Homo sapiens: one gene and its partner. The protein of the gene in region 2 interacts with the protein of the main gene of each other region in a pairwise test. Each region holds a gene or a part of one and is shown on either strand. Other genes may lie near its edges.

The links.
Region 1: the proteins of NAA11 (region 2) and BAALC interact in binary tests that used the Homo sapiens proteins (3 or more experiments, as listed by UniProt).

What each region holds. Positions count from the first base shown.
Region 1 is NC_000008.11:103,143,721-103,150,754, reverse strand, and holds part of BAALC (brain and acute leukemia cytoplasmic protein), read right to left. Parts: intron 1-7,034. UniProt on the Homo sapiens protein: May play a synaptic role at the postsynaptic lipid rafts possibly through interaction with CAMK2A.
Region 2 is NC_000004.12:79,316,171-79,323,204, forward strand, and holds the end of NAA11 (N-alpha-acetyltransferase 11), read right to left. Parts: intron 1,622-7,034; 3' UTR 477-1,621; downstream 1-476.

The DNA.
Region 1 (7,034 bases), on a different chromosome or scaffold from region 2:
AGGGCATCAGCTTTGCCTAACTGCCCACTAAAATGCCTGTGAAGACATAGAAAAAGACCAAGACTCACAACATCACCACAAGTGAAGACTGGTAGGCAACCTAATCCCAGAATCTAGGAGAAGCTGGCATCATTTGTAAAGCAGATTGTGTTAGATTAAGAAAAACCTACCCAGACTTTTGGTTTTGCTTCATTACACAGAAGCCACATGGTGAGATGTAGGCAGACATTAGGTACCTATCCCATCTGACACAAAGACCTAGAGCTGGAAGCCTATGGAGTGGTACCAGCCATAGCTCTGGGCAGCCAACCTGTCTGACCTCAAGGGCATTTGAGACTCAGAAAGCTGGTCCCTGCACACACACACACACAGACACACCCAGCCATACACACAGACACACAGACACACACACACACACACAGCCATGTTTCTATATCCATGATATGGTTTGGCTGTGTCCCCACCCAAATCTTATCTTGAATTGTATCTCCCACAATTCCCACGTGTTGTGGGAGGGGCCAGGTGGGAGGTAATTGAATCATGGGGGTGAGTCTTTCCCATGCTGTTCTCATAATAGTGAATAAGTCTCATGAGATCCGATGGTTTTATAAAGGGGAGTTTCCCTGCACAAGCTCTCTTCTCTTGTCTGCTGCCATGTGAGATGTGCCTTTCACCTTCCATCATAATTGTGAGGCCTCCCCAGCCACATGGAACTGTGAGTCCATTAAACCTCTTCTTCCTTATAAATTACCCAGTCTCAGGTGTGTCTTCGTCGGCAGCATGAAAACAGACTAATACAACCCATAAAGAGACTAAATCCCAGAAAACAGCTAGGAAAAATATAGAACAGCATACTCAGCCTGAGCCTGTTGTGGGGGCTTGAGGGGGAGGTAAGAGGGAAACATGGAGGAATCACCTACAGTAATTACCTGGTATGTAATTTGCCTGAATTCAAGTATATTTGCCCAGTATTGAAAGAAAAAAAGAAAAATCCCTTTACTTCTCCATGACCTTTCCCCCTTTCTCTTCCTCCATTCAAACTAGACTTGGGCTCCCACTACCTCCATATAGTTTCCTAAATACAAAAATGAACAAATATAATTTTTCTTGGTTTTTGAGCTTCCAAGCAGTTTGAGGAATTTTTCCCATCCCCCCATCCGGAACTTTAAACATCACCTTCACGTATAAGATGCAAATACAGCATCGTCTTCATGGGACCTGAAAGATGAAACCTAAATGCTGAGAGAGGCATTATTTTCCTCTGTGTGCTTTTTCTATGCTTTTTAAATGTTTAATTAGGAGCATGCACTGCATTTGAAACCAGAAAAAAATATATGATTCTGCCTAAAGACTGTTCCTGTTTAATGGGCCTGTCAGGTGACTGGGATGCAGGTGACACCTGGGGCACCTCCTGCAACCCTTTCTATGGAGATGGAGATTGGAGCAGCACGGGCACTCAGCACAGGGAGAGGGCAGTGTAAGCACCGCAGAGCTGCAGGACTCAGCCTTGTAAATGCTAGCAGGAGGCTCCCACGCTAAATGGTTAATATTTTCAGAAAAGCCCAAGGCAGATGGGGTGGGGGGAGGGTACTACATTCGTGCTTAGCAGCACAGCACAATGGACCCTGCCCTGAATTCAGAAACAAGAGACCTGAATTCTGATCCTAGCTCTCCCACTTCCAAGCTGGTGGCCTGGCTCAGTCTCTTCATCTCACTGAATCCCAGCTCCTCATCTGGCAAGTGATGAGAACAATGGTTTATGAGGTTATTTCGGAGGGTGATATAAACTAGTGTCAAAAAGAAAAATTCTCACATATAGTAAATGCAAATAGTAGATACAAATAAATGCTATTTGAATCTAAACAGCCAGGAAATAGATCCAATCTCAGAAAAAAGTGTGAGGAAGTAACAGTGGAAATCCGTCTCTCTTATTATTTCCAAATGTTCACAGTGTTAGTGCTCATAAACACACTTGCATTAGTTTGCTAGGGCTGCCATAACAAAGTGCCACAAACCGCATGGCTTAAACAACGGAAACCTGCTGTTTCCCAGTTCTGGAGGCCAGAAGTCCAGGACCAAGATATCAGCAGGCCGGTTACAAAAAACAAACAAACAAAAAAAGGCAGAAAGAATGAATGAGACCTACTATTTGACAGCACAATAAGGTGACTATAGTCAATAATAACTTAATCATACATTTTGAAATAACAAAGTATAACTAGATTGTTTGCAACTCAAAAGATAAATGCTTGAGGTGATGGATACCCCATTCTCCATGATGTGCTTATTTCACATTGCATGCCTGTATCAAAACATCTCATGTGCTCCATGCATACATACACCTACTATGTACCCACAGAAATCAAAAATGAAAAAAGATATCAGCAGGGTTGGTTCCTTCTGGAGGCCCTGAGGGAGAATCTGTCCCCTGCCTCTCTCTGAGCTTCCAGTGGTTTTCAGTGGACTTTCCTTGATGCTCCTTGGCTGGTGGCAGCATCACCGGTCTCTGCCTTCATCTCCACATGGAGTTCTCCCTGTGTGTCTCTCTATCTCCAAATTTCCCCTTTTCATAAGGACACCAGTCATTCTGGATTAGGGCCCACCCTAATGAACTCATTTCAACTTGATTACCTCTTTAAAGATTCTCTTTCCAAATAAGGTCACATTCTGAGGTACCGGGGTAGAGAGGGGGTTAGGGCTTCAACATGTGAATTGGGGGAGACACAAATCAGCACATAACAACATTCTAAAAGAACAACATTCTCAAGAGAGATGGCTGTGGTTGGGCATGAGACAGAGTGGGAGTCAGGCATGTGAGGAAGCAAGCGTTCCTGGTAGCCAAGCTAGCAGGAGCTATATCATGATTGGGCTCAGGGTAAACCCCTCGAGTCTGCTCTGCAGAGGAGAGTAAATGTGGCATATAGACTGGCCAGAGAGGCTCTGAAGGAGTCTTTATAGGGATAGGATTTTGCAGCGGAGGCCAAAGGTCTGCTGAGAGTGTCTCGAGGCTGTAGGCCTGACATGGGAGGGCTCCTGGGATGAATGGCACAGCACCATTGTCCGAGAACAGGTTTAGACACCCAACTTCACAAGGGCAGAATGGCCTTATCAGCAGGAAGATGCTATGGATCACAGGTGCACAGATCCCAGGGTGAAGGTTGGACCTCCAGGAGTCCAAACCTGAGGGATTGCTGAGTGCAGAATGAGCCAGGAAAAGACCCCTTTCTGACTCAGAGAAGACTAGGTTCTTCCCACCAGGGCCTATTAACCGAAGAAAAAAAAATCTGCAATGTTTTTTGCAGAAAAAAAAATCTGCATTTATCCTTTGAGTTACATACAATCCAATTACACTCTTTAAATTATTTAAAAATATACAGTTGAGTTATTATTGACTATCGTCATCCCATTGTGCTATCAAATAGTAGGTCTTATTCATTCTTTCTACATATTCTGGAGGAAATTCTGGAATGCACTTAGGATACTACTACACCCTGCAGTGGAGTCACCTTAAATTCATCTTTGGCTAGGGTTGGAATTGTTTTATCTAATGTCCAATGAAGACAAGGTTCAATGGACTGATATCTAAGACAAAAGCATCTAAGATGAGACTCAGGAAAGAGGTTATAAGAATGACAGACTAAGCTTCATTTGCACAGCTAGATCATTCATTCATTTATTCATTTTCACAGTCATTCAACAAATGTGTGGAAGATGCCAGGCATGCAAATATCAATCATGTGATCCCCAACCTGGAAGAGCTCACAGACTAACTAGAGAGACAGAGGAATGACCAAGCCCTGGCAATGCAGTGTGACAGGTACCATCACTAGACTCTCAAAGTGTCTGGAGAGCCAATGGCACAACATGATACTCTGCCCAGGAGACAAGGGCCATGGGAACATGAGGCTGCCTAAACCTTTACAAACTGCCTAGGTTTGTTACCACTTGTCTCTTGCAGTGATTTTAAGAAACAGCTTATAACAAAAAGGCTTGTGTTTGGCAAAAGGGGTGTAAGGAAGGTGGGGATGTTTTCTTACTGTGCAGCCCATCAGACAGACAACAAAAAGTTGAGCAGAGAGAACTGATGAGGAAAGAGAACATCATCTCTGGGGTCTACAAGAAGAAATTGACAAACAGAAGTTTTAGATTTATTCATTTATGAGAAGTTACTCAGGGTCCTGATGTAGCCAGAACAGCGTTAGGTACAGGGATAGGACTGTGTGTGAAATGAAACCTTATCTAACCCAACAGAACCCTTGCCTTACCAAACCTAACAGTCATCCTTGACGGAAGCAGACATTAATCACTAGTTATTCAAAGATAGAACCACAAGCGGTAACAGGTAAGTCAAGGCAGCTGGGGTGTGGGTGGAGGGGGTTTATCCACCAGGAAGCCCTGGCTGTCCTCTCCACAGGTGCTCTCACTCTCGGGGATGGAGTCAGGCCAGCTGGGCTGCACTCCTGTTCCTCTCCAGGGTGGGAGGGTTGGCTCGGACAGTCCCCCTTCCTCTGCTGGGCTCCTGCAGGGGTCTGTATACACACTGACCCCTCCCCAGGCAGAAAAAAACTGCTTAGTTCCTGAATGCCTCTAATGCTTTTCTACATGCCCTTCTAGTATGGACCATGGACAATGCTGACCTGAACGGTGTCCACTTTTATGTTTTTCTTCCCTATAATAGTAACTTCTTCAGGTCATCTTTGTGCCAAATGTCTATTCAGTGAACAAAAGAGCAAAAAAAGATGTCTTTTATCTTATTCTGTCAACACAGAGAAACAAAGACCTAGAATATTGTTTTCATAGCTCTATCAAAATGAATCAAGGTCAGCAAATTTAAACGTTAAACTGAAACCAATAAGATGAAATTTAACAGAAATAAATGCAAAAATTCCTTATTTGGGTTACTGAAGTCAATTATACCAATTCAGGATTCATAAGGAAAGAAATTCATTCATTCAACAAACGTTTATTGAGCGCCACCTACGTTCTAGTCACTGTACCAGGTGCTGGGTACATAGCAGAGAAAATACAATGTCCTTGATGTCATAAAACTTAAATTTGATTATAAAGAAAGATCTAAGGATTTTAACTAATCATAAGCTTAATGTGAGTCTTCAAGGTAATATGGCAACAACAACAGCAGGAAAACAAACAAATCCTAACCTGATTTTACATGCACCAAGAGAGGTTTGTTCAATGACCATATCATAGCACACCTTGTATTGCCCTATGCCGTTCAGCTGACATCAGTAGCTTGGAGTTAGCCATAGGTCCCTTGTATCAAGAGGGACTTTGACAAACCGAGTAGTGTATTTAGAGAATGTGGTCAGGCCTACCTGAGGTGTGAGAAGTGATTGAAGGAACTGCATGTATTTGACCTGGAAGACCAATGGTAAGAGATGTGACAGCCATCTTCAAATATTGAAAGAGTTGTCTGTGCAAGACTTGATCACATGGGTCTGGAGTTCACCGGGTAGAAATTACAAGGAAGCAGGAAGAGTCTCACAGGAGAACTGCTTCATAAAGTTATGGGAAAGCCTCCTTCCTTAGGGAAAAGATATTCCATCCTTAGAGATGATGCAGAAGACAATTGTGCTGTCTGAGATCAGAGTAGAATCAAGAGATCAGACTTGACTTTGAGTTTAGTGAACTGTAAAATCAAGAATTTCATAGCATATCCCCTATTAATCAGGAAGGCAGTATTTAGGAGTAGAGGCTTTGGAAATGGATAGAACTAGATTCCAGGCTGGAACTGGGAAAAGTTACTTGCAGACTTCCAGCCTCATTTCCTCACTTGTAAAAGGAGGGTGGCTATAGTTCCTGCCTCGTTCCTGAAGTGAGGATTCAATGAGAAAATTCAAAGTGCCCAATAAAGCACCAGGCCCCAGTAAGTCATTAATAAATGATGGGTAATGGTGATATTAAATGCTGTCCATTTTATTTGACTATCTTTCAGTTTATTTAGGTAAATCATTTTGCTGTCTGTAATTCTGCAAACCTCTATTATACTAAGACAATGATTTAGCAATTTAAAAATGTAAAGTACAAGTCCTTTAGAAAGTTTTGAAATGTTTTCTCTGGAGAAATTAGAAAAAAAGTGTGCTTAAGGATGCAATTTTTGGGGCTTGTGATTACACTGAGATGAAGCTAGGAAGTTATTAATGAATGGAATGACTGAGCTAGGTTGGGTCATGGCAACCTCAGAGACTTCCTTTCTCCTTGGAGACCCCCACCAGGCAACAGAATTAAAAATCAATCCAGCAGACTGATTTTATGAGGATTAAATTATGTCAGACCAATTTAATTTCCTTCTGTAACAGAGGGACAGACTTTGGTGACACAGGAAAGCAATGGATATCACATACCTTGGCTTCAGCTAGCTTTTAAATTCTAGCCTACGTAACAGTCAAATCTAAAAAATTAATTCAATTCCATTGAGTAGTGGAGATGATCTCCAAAAACAGGAACCACAGGCTCAGGATCATTTTTTGAGTAAGAAGATGCAAGAAACCTTCTTCTTTGTGGAACTGGGAGAAAAACATGCCCCCTCCCTGCAGTGAAATTCAGAATTCATTCAACAAATATTTGCTGAACACCTGTCATGTGACACACCCTCAATCTGGATTGGGCTAAGAGAAACACAAGTGAGATTTAAAAGCAGATATGATTAAATGGGACTTTTCTTGGGCAGACATGTTTGTGGAGTTGAGGTTGTGGGTTCAGGGAGGCTACAGAAGAAATGGAATCGTTGGGTTGGGCCAGGTGTTTGAATGGAGTAGGGTAAAGTTGGGGAGAACTTTTTAAAGAGAAGTTGTGCGATCAGAAAGGCCGTTGGAAGAATTCAGGCTAAATTGATTCAAGTGGGAAAACCTCAGTAGCAAGTACTGCAAAGAAGAGGCAGAAGGGGCTCTAGGAAGAGCTGACAGGACGGAGGACAGGTTCAGACAGAGCATCCATTCATTCTGAAAACTTTTACAAGTCCCAGATGTGTTCAGCACAGAAGATGCAAAGATGAATTAGCTTCTCCCCTAGCCCTC
Region 2 (7,034 bases):
ATGGAATACTTCATCAGTAAGATTATGCTGCCCTAGAGACAGATGTTAGAAAGCTGTAATATTTAAAAATAAAGAGATAAACACATGGTTGAGAGGAAAGAATAAAATAATTTAGCGTTGAGATAGAATATTAAAAAGAAAAAAGGAAAAGATGGAAAGATAGATTTTATCATACTGTATTGGCACAAGAAATGGCAAATCCTTTCATGTAGGGAAAAACTTTTATATCTGCCTCAGGCAATCATTTACCATTAGGCAGACATTCTTAGAGTGCACTAGGGTAGATCTGTAAGAACTGCTTAGCAGGGCTAATTACGATTACACAGAAAAGACTTACCTCTTGTCACCAGATAAAGTCCAGGCTTTGACTTAAATCCATACACACCAGTTTTCATAAAAGTTTAAACATGAAAAATGTTATATACTTTGGTAATTCACATTCAGTGAACATAAAAACAACATTAAGTAATGATAACTCTGGATTTATCTGGTAACTTTTACTGCAGAGGTCAAGGTACTTTGTCTTCACTTATTTTTACTAGAGAAAAATAATAAAAATAGATTATAATTGTAGGTTATATAAATATTTACAATTGACATACAGTAGCCATGTATTAAGCAAACACATTTTTAAACAGCAGATTCTCCATTTTTGCTAAAATTTTAACACATTTATAAATAAAATGCAAAGAGTAGGAACAGAAAAGTAGAAGGAACTTTGGCTTTGAATTCAAACAGAATTGGGTTCAGATCCAGGATATTTAATTCACTTCTCTGAGCTTCAGTTTCCTCATCTGTAAAACAGGGATAATACTACCTACTTTACAGGGTTGCTGAGAGGGTTAAATATGTAACTAATGAAGGCTCCAGCATTGTGTGTGAACACTGCAGGTACTCAATAAATGCCAAGTGACATAATCACAAAAAAACTAACACAAACAAGCACATTAGAGATTCCAATTTAATTACCGTTTGTCCTTTTCTTAAAATCTCCAAGTTCTGATTGTACAGTAGAAGCTCCTAACTTAACACCTTTTCCCACTGGGAAGGTGATGCCCTCCTCCTCAAAAAAAAGGGAGGGGGGAATAGTATAAAGGAGGAGTTACCAGAGAAAGGAAAAGGAAACTGAATACTTCTTCCAGGAAAGAGGAGGAAGAGGGCATGAGGTCTGACTTCATGGTCCTGACTACTTCACCTCCTCAAGGATGAAAACTCAGGTAAATAATGGTTAAAAAACAAAAACAAAAACTGAAAGCTGGAAATCTTCAAGAGTTTGCCCTGCTTCCTGTTCATCATTCTAAAAGGAGAAAAACTTGCAGGATAACCACACCCAACAGAGGACTACTACAAACAGAATAAAATGGCAGCGTAGTGTGAGTAGGCCAAGAAAGGTTCTGTAATGGCAGGTCTCAAAGTTCCTTGGCTGTTGTGCAGTGGCTCTTGTGTCCAGGTATTCCTTCATGATCCCAGCAGGATATGTGAAAGGTGGTTGTTTATAGAGTTAAGAGTGAGAAGCCATTCTGGTCACTGTGAGATGATCCCCACAGCAGATGCTGCAGAGCAGACAGACTAAGCCAGGGTTCACAGAGTAGATGTGGTTGAGACATGAGGACCTGAAATGCTGTTGAAAAATGAGAAGAAAACAAATGAGAAAGGGAGAGCTATAAGCTCTGACAGCTCTGAAAGAATACTGGTTTAGTTAATGATAGACTGGAACAGCAGATAAAGAAACCCAGTAACTAGTTTGGACTAGATATATCTCCATGGCAGTCAGTGAGAATTCAGATGACTGCACAAAGACCACACACAGATCTGGGGCTCTCTCCCCTCCCTGCCATAAGAACACATGAACCTTTCCTGACATCTAAAGGACATTTCTGCCAGGAGAAAGGGACAGGAAGAACACCAAAAAACTGGGATTTACCCCCAAAGAACCTATTTTAAAACTAAAGAAACTGAGATCATTTTGCTTGTCATCTTTAAATTCTATCTCATCCTACTCCACTCAAAAGAAAATTTATTCCAATTCTAAAGAAATGAAAGGCCTTTTTAGCTCTTGATAAGTTAGATGCAATGTGTCCAACTCTATAAGTCATATTTTCTTTCTGAGGCCTGGACAGGAAACCAAAATAACCATAATGTTTCTTTATTCACAAATTAAAGTGCCCTAATTACATCAGGTAAGAGGAAGTAGGTAATTATATCAGGTAAGAGGAATCATACATACATTATTTTTCTCTCCTTTAAAAAAATTTATTATATGGGTAATTTGAGAGGTCCATTCATTCATTCATTCAATAAATATTTACTCAGTACCTTTTCATCTATCATATGCACACAGAAGTAAATAAGATTGAGGCTGACTATTATGCACAGAGCAGTTAAAAAGCATTTTTGTACAAAATCATTGTTATAGAAAATTCTGTTGCCAGAATAACAAGTGAAGCCAGTTGTAAGAGGTAATACTATGTAAAATCTTATTTTTTAAAGTATATTTGCTATAACAAAAGAGACACAAGATATGGAGGAACAGGTCAGAAAGACTATCATCATTGCCTTTTTCATTTTTGCATGAACAGGCATGCAAAAGAAGTTATATAGCTGTTTTAGTTATCTCAGTAAATACTGCTTGAAAATTTTAAGAAATTAAACTGAAAAAGTCAAATAACACTGTAATAAAGGCTATAGGATAGTTTGTTGTTTAAGAGTATAGGTATTTTTCATAAAGATTCCCTTTAAAATGTTAGTATTATAGTCCTTTTTTTGAGACAGGGTCTTGCTCTGTCACCCAGACTGGAGCACAGTGGTACAATCATGGCTCACAAGAGCCTCAAACTCCTGGGCACAAGTGATCCTCCAGCCTCAGCCTCCTGAGTAGCTAGGACTACAAGCACGCACCAGTATACACCACCACGCTGGCTAATGTTTTTTAGTTTTTGTAGAGACTAGGTCTTGCTATGTTTTCAAGGCTGGTCTTGAACTCCTGGCCTCATGCAAAGCTCCCGCCTTGGCCTCCTAAAGTGCTGGGATTACAGGCATGAGCCGCTGTGCCCACCCCAAGCCCTTAATGTCTTGCTTATTAAGTTCAAAGTTTTACATTATCAGGTTTTCTTAAAGGTGGGCTATGGAAGCCTGACAAATACATGCTATTTGTCGATATGGTGTTATAAACATGAAACAGAATACTATGGCTTTACTTTAAAAAAAAATCCTATAATTTTCCAAAGATATTTATCTATAGAAATGGCATTGTAGAATATTTTCAGAAAGGCTTTTATGGTGGCTCTTTGAATCATTGCCCATTCAAAGAATTTTAAATATTCTATCTAACCTCCTGTACCATAAAGCCCATTGGATTTCATATACTAGAGCATAGAGTACAAAATTTAGGAAAAACCTCTGCTTTTATCAGTTACTTCTGACAAAGTTGGTATTTCAGTCATCCTACATGTACATCATACACTGATTGAAAGGTGACATTGTTAGAGATTATAAATAATTCAACAAATGGCATCTATCTGATTAGTATTTCAAAACAATATTTTATCTCTTCCCAACCCCCTCTTTATCTTCATAGAGTGCAGTTGCATTTGAAATCTATGGTTTCTGGCATATCTGGGGTAAGGTTATACTACGAATTTACCAGACCTGTCAGTCTGTAGGTTTCTTCCATATTTCATTATATCATTCCAGTTATAATTAGTTGTCTGGTAAAATTAAGAACAGTCTATTTCAGTGACTGCTCATGTGAACATTTAACAACTTTTTGTTAGAATGACAGTTTAGCGACACAAAGAATAAACCAGAAAGGGAGAGTCACTGAAGTAACCTTACTTAACTCAATGTTGCCAGCTCAATTGAAAACACTAAGATTTTGCATTTTTTTCATTTTTGTTATTAATAATCAAGCACATATTTCTTGTCAAGAGATAAGCAGCAGTTTGATGACATTCCTGCCTCAACCAGCATGTTTTGAACTGACCTGTCTTCATTGCTATGGCTCCCAAGAAACTCTGCCGTTGACAAGCGTTGATTCAGCTGAATGCTTTGACATTTAGCTTGTCAGTGAAAGCTATTTTAATCATTAAGATGCATTTCCCATCCAAGATTGCAAACTGTTGCTGCTCATACACAACATTCTATCATTTGATTACCGTGGAGAAGAAGAGAACCTGAAAAGTTACTCTTACTATCGATTATATTAAGAGCTAAAATTTATTGATTATTTTACTGTGTGTGAGGAGTTGTGCTTAGCAATTTACATAGATTGACTCATTTAATCTTCTCAATCATGGAGTCTGACCACCTGAGTTTGCATCCTTGTTTTCCACTATCTGTATAACATGCAGCCCTCCCTGTGACATGATTTCCTCAACCACAAAATGGAGTAATAGTACCTACCTCACAGGCTTATTATGAGGAATAAATGAAACACATCATTAACAGTGCTTAGAATTAATACCTGCAAAACAGTGCGTTTTCATAGTGTGAAGAGCAATTTTTATTACCATTTTTTAGATGAAATCAACCAGTTCTTCACCAACTGTCCTGCTCAGCATCACTTCTAACTCTGTCTCTGTTCCCAAATCCAAAAGTACAGATAGGGAAAATGAAAAATATTTTTTTTAGGACATTTTTTCTATAGGTATTTGAACTCCAGCTCCACAGGAGGGAGCACCACAATTGTAGAAGGATAGTACTTTTGCAGTATGAGCCTTTTAAATGTTTTTCCTGTTCTTTCTTTCTTCACTGTAGCCTTTCTCCATTCAGGGAGCTAGACCTATGTGCTGGTGAATCCCTATTAAATGGGATGCAAGTGAAGATTTAGACAGTTTTGGGGACTTCAGAGGAGAGGGGTCATTTGTCCCAGGTTTAATTAGTGGCATAATGGCAGCAAGATAACAGAATCCCATAGTTTTCCACGCCCAAGTTTGTGAAGCAGCAGAATAAATATATGTCAGGTGTTTATGTAGACAACCTCAGACAGCCTAACAGAGTTCCCTGGGCCATGCCATGGAGTGAGAGCAGCTGTATGATCCCATTGCTTCTAACTGGGCATGGAAGCAAAACTTCTCAAAGTCCAGAGCACCACTAGGATGTTTCCTATTGTGGCAGAAACTATGCTGTGTTGTTGCTGAACTCCTTCCTTTCTTTCCTGAGCACAAAGCTAAACTAAATATCATAGCCTCCCCTGCAGTTAGTTGGGTAAGACTTGACTTTTAAAACCTTTATTAACCACTATATACATTCTTTTCTCTCATCTGCTAGTTGAATGTATATGAACCAGTTGAAGGTCTTATGATCCTAGAAAATGACAAGAGTCATTGAATTAGGAGTTCTTAACCTGGGATCTATTTAATAAGATGTAGGAGAACCATGACCTTGGATTTGGAACAAAAACAATTCTGTATTTTCATCAACCTCTAACTGAAATCTGGCAATTCTTTAAATTATGAACATAGGAATCAATGCACAGTAGTATTAGCAATACTTGAGACTTTGTCACCAATAAAACTCATAGGTATTTTCATATCACATTATAGATACTTAAGGTATCTTAAATATCATTTATACTAAAATTTACTTTGAAATAATAGTAATTATTAGGCTATTCAATATGCTAACACAAAGCACATATATTACAACAAAAGTATTTTTAAAATAGTTTGATAACTATATCAATGAAATTGTTTTCCTTTGTAATCTGGTATAATTTTTACATCTTTTAAAAATTTTTCTGCTTCACCAGATTGCCAAAGGGAGCTACAGAAAATTAAGAATCCCTGTCTAAATGATCCCTGAATGATACCATGGAGTAGGGTCCATCTTTTCCCCTCTACTCCACATCACCACCACACTGATGACCCACATTGTACTATGATGTGAGAAATAAGATTTTATTGGGTTAAGTTACTGAGATTTGGAAGTTAATTTTTAGAGCAGTTAGCCTGTGCAGACTAATACTCATATACCCTTGCTACCAAAATGGTAAGAGACCTCCGGTTGGAAAAGACCCAGAAGTGAATCCTGAGGATCAAAGATTGGATGGGGCCATTGAATATGTCTCAGCAGATAACAACTCAGAAAGACGGTGAAGCTCAGTCTAGGAAACATTTCCTTCAACTTAGAAATAAAGTTCAATTACGGTATCATAAAGAAACAGTTCAATTATTCTTGAATTTGTATGCTGAAATTTATAACTGTGACACAACAATGAATTTTCTTATTTATTATTTCTCTCTTCTTTTACTACAGTGGCAGTTATTTTGTTTCTCATAGCAGATATTAAGTGCTTTTGAATTCATCAGTTTTATAGGTGTGTGTGTGTGTGTGTGTATATATATATATATGGTTTTAAAACAACCTCTGATTAGCTCTGTTCTCAGCTAGAGTTTAACAATGAAGAGAAGCAAATAACTACAAAGATGAGATCAATACTGTGTAAGTCCTTCTACGAAGGAATTTGAAAGTTGAAATTTTTTTTAAAAGGTTTGTGCATTCAAAGAGTCTTGAGAGAGCCCTCCAGGGTTTTCAAGACAGGTGTAAATTTGACAACGCTTTCTCAAGGCATCAAGTTTTAATTTCATCTTTGCTTTTAGACTGTTCTGCCGGCTTTATTTTTTAGAAAAAATGAATCAGTCACTGTGAAACTTTCAGGTTATTAAAAGTCAGATGCAAAATCTCCTCTGAGGACAGATTCTTTCTAACCACCAAAGACTTACTGTATCTAAATTTTTATAACATACTGAACTGTAACTGAATGAAAATAAAATGGGATTAGTGTGTTATAGCTTCGGTTTTGGCATTAAAATGCAAAAAAAAAGTCCATTTATTCTTAAATGCTATATAATATAAACATCAGTCTGTCTTGATCACTGCTGTATACTCAGCTCCAAGCCTAATGCCTGACAAATATTTTTATGAATGAGTAGACTAATCAAATAGCACTTACTGAAATTATATACAGAATACACTATTTATGACTAGACTTTGCCATGAGAAGTTGCTGCCTTTCATACATGTAAGGGTAAGGT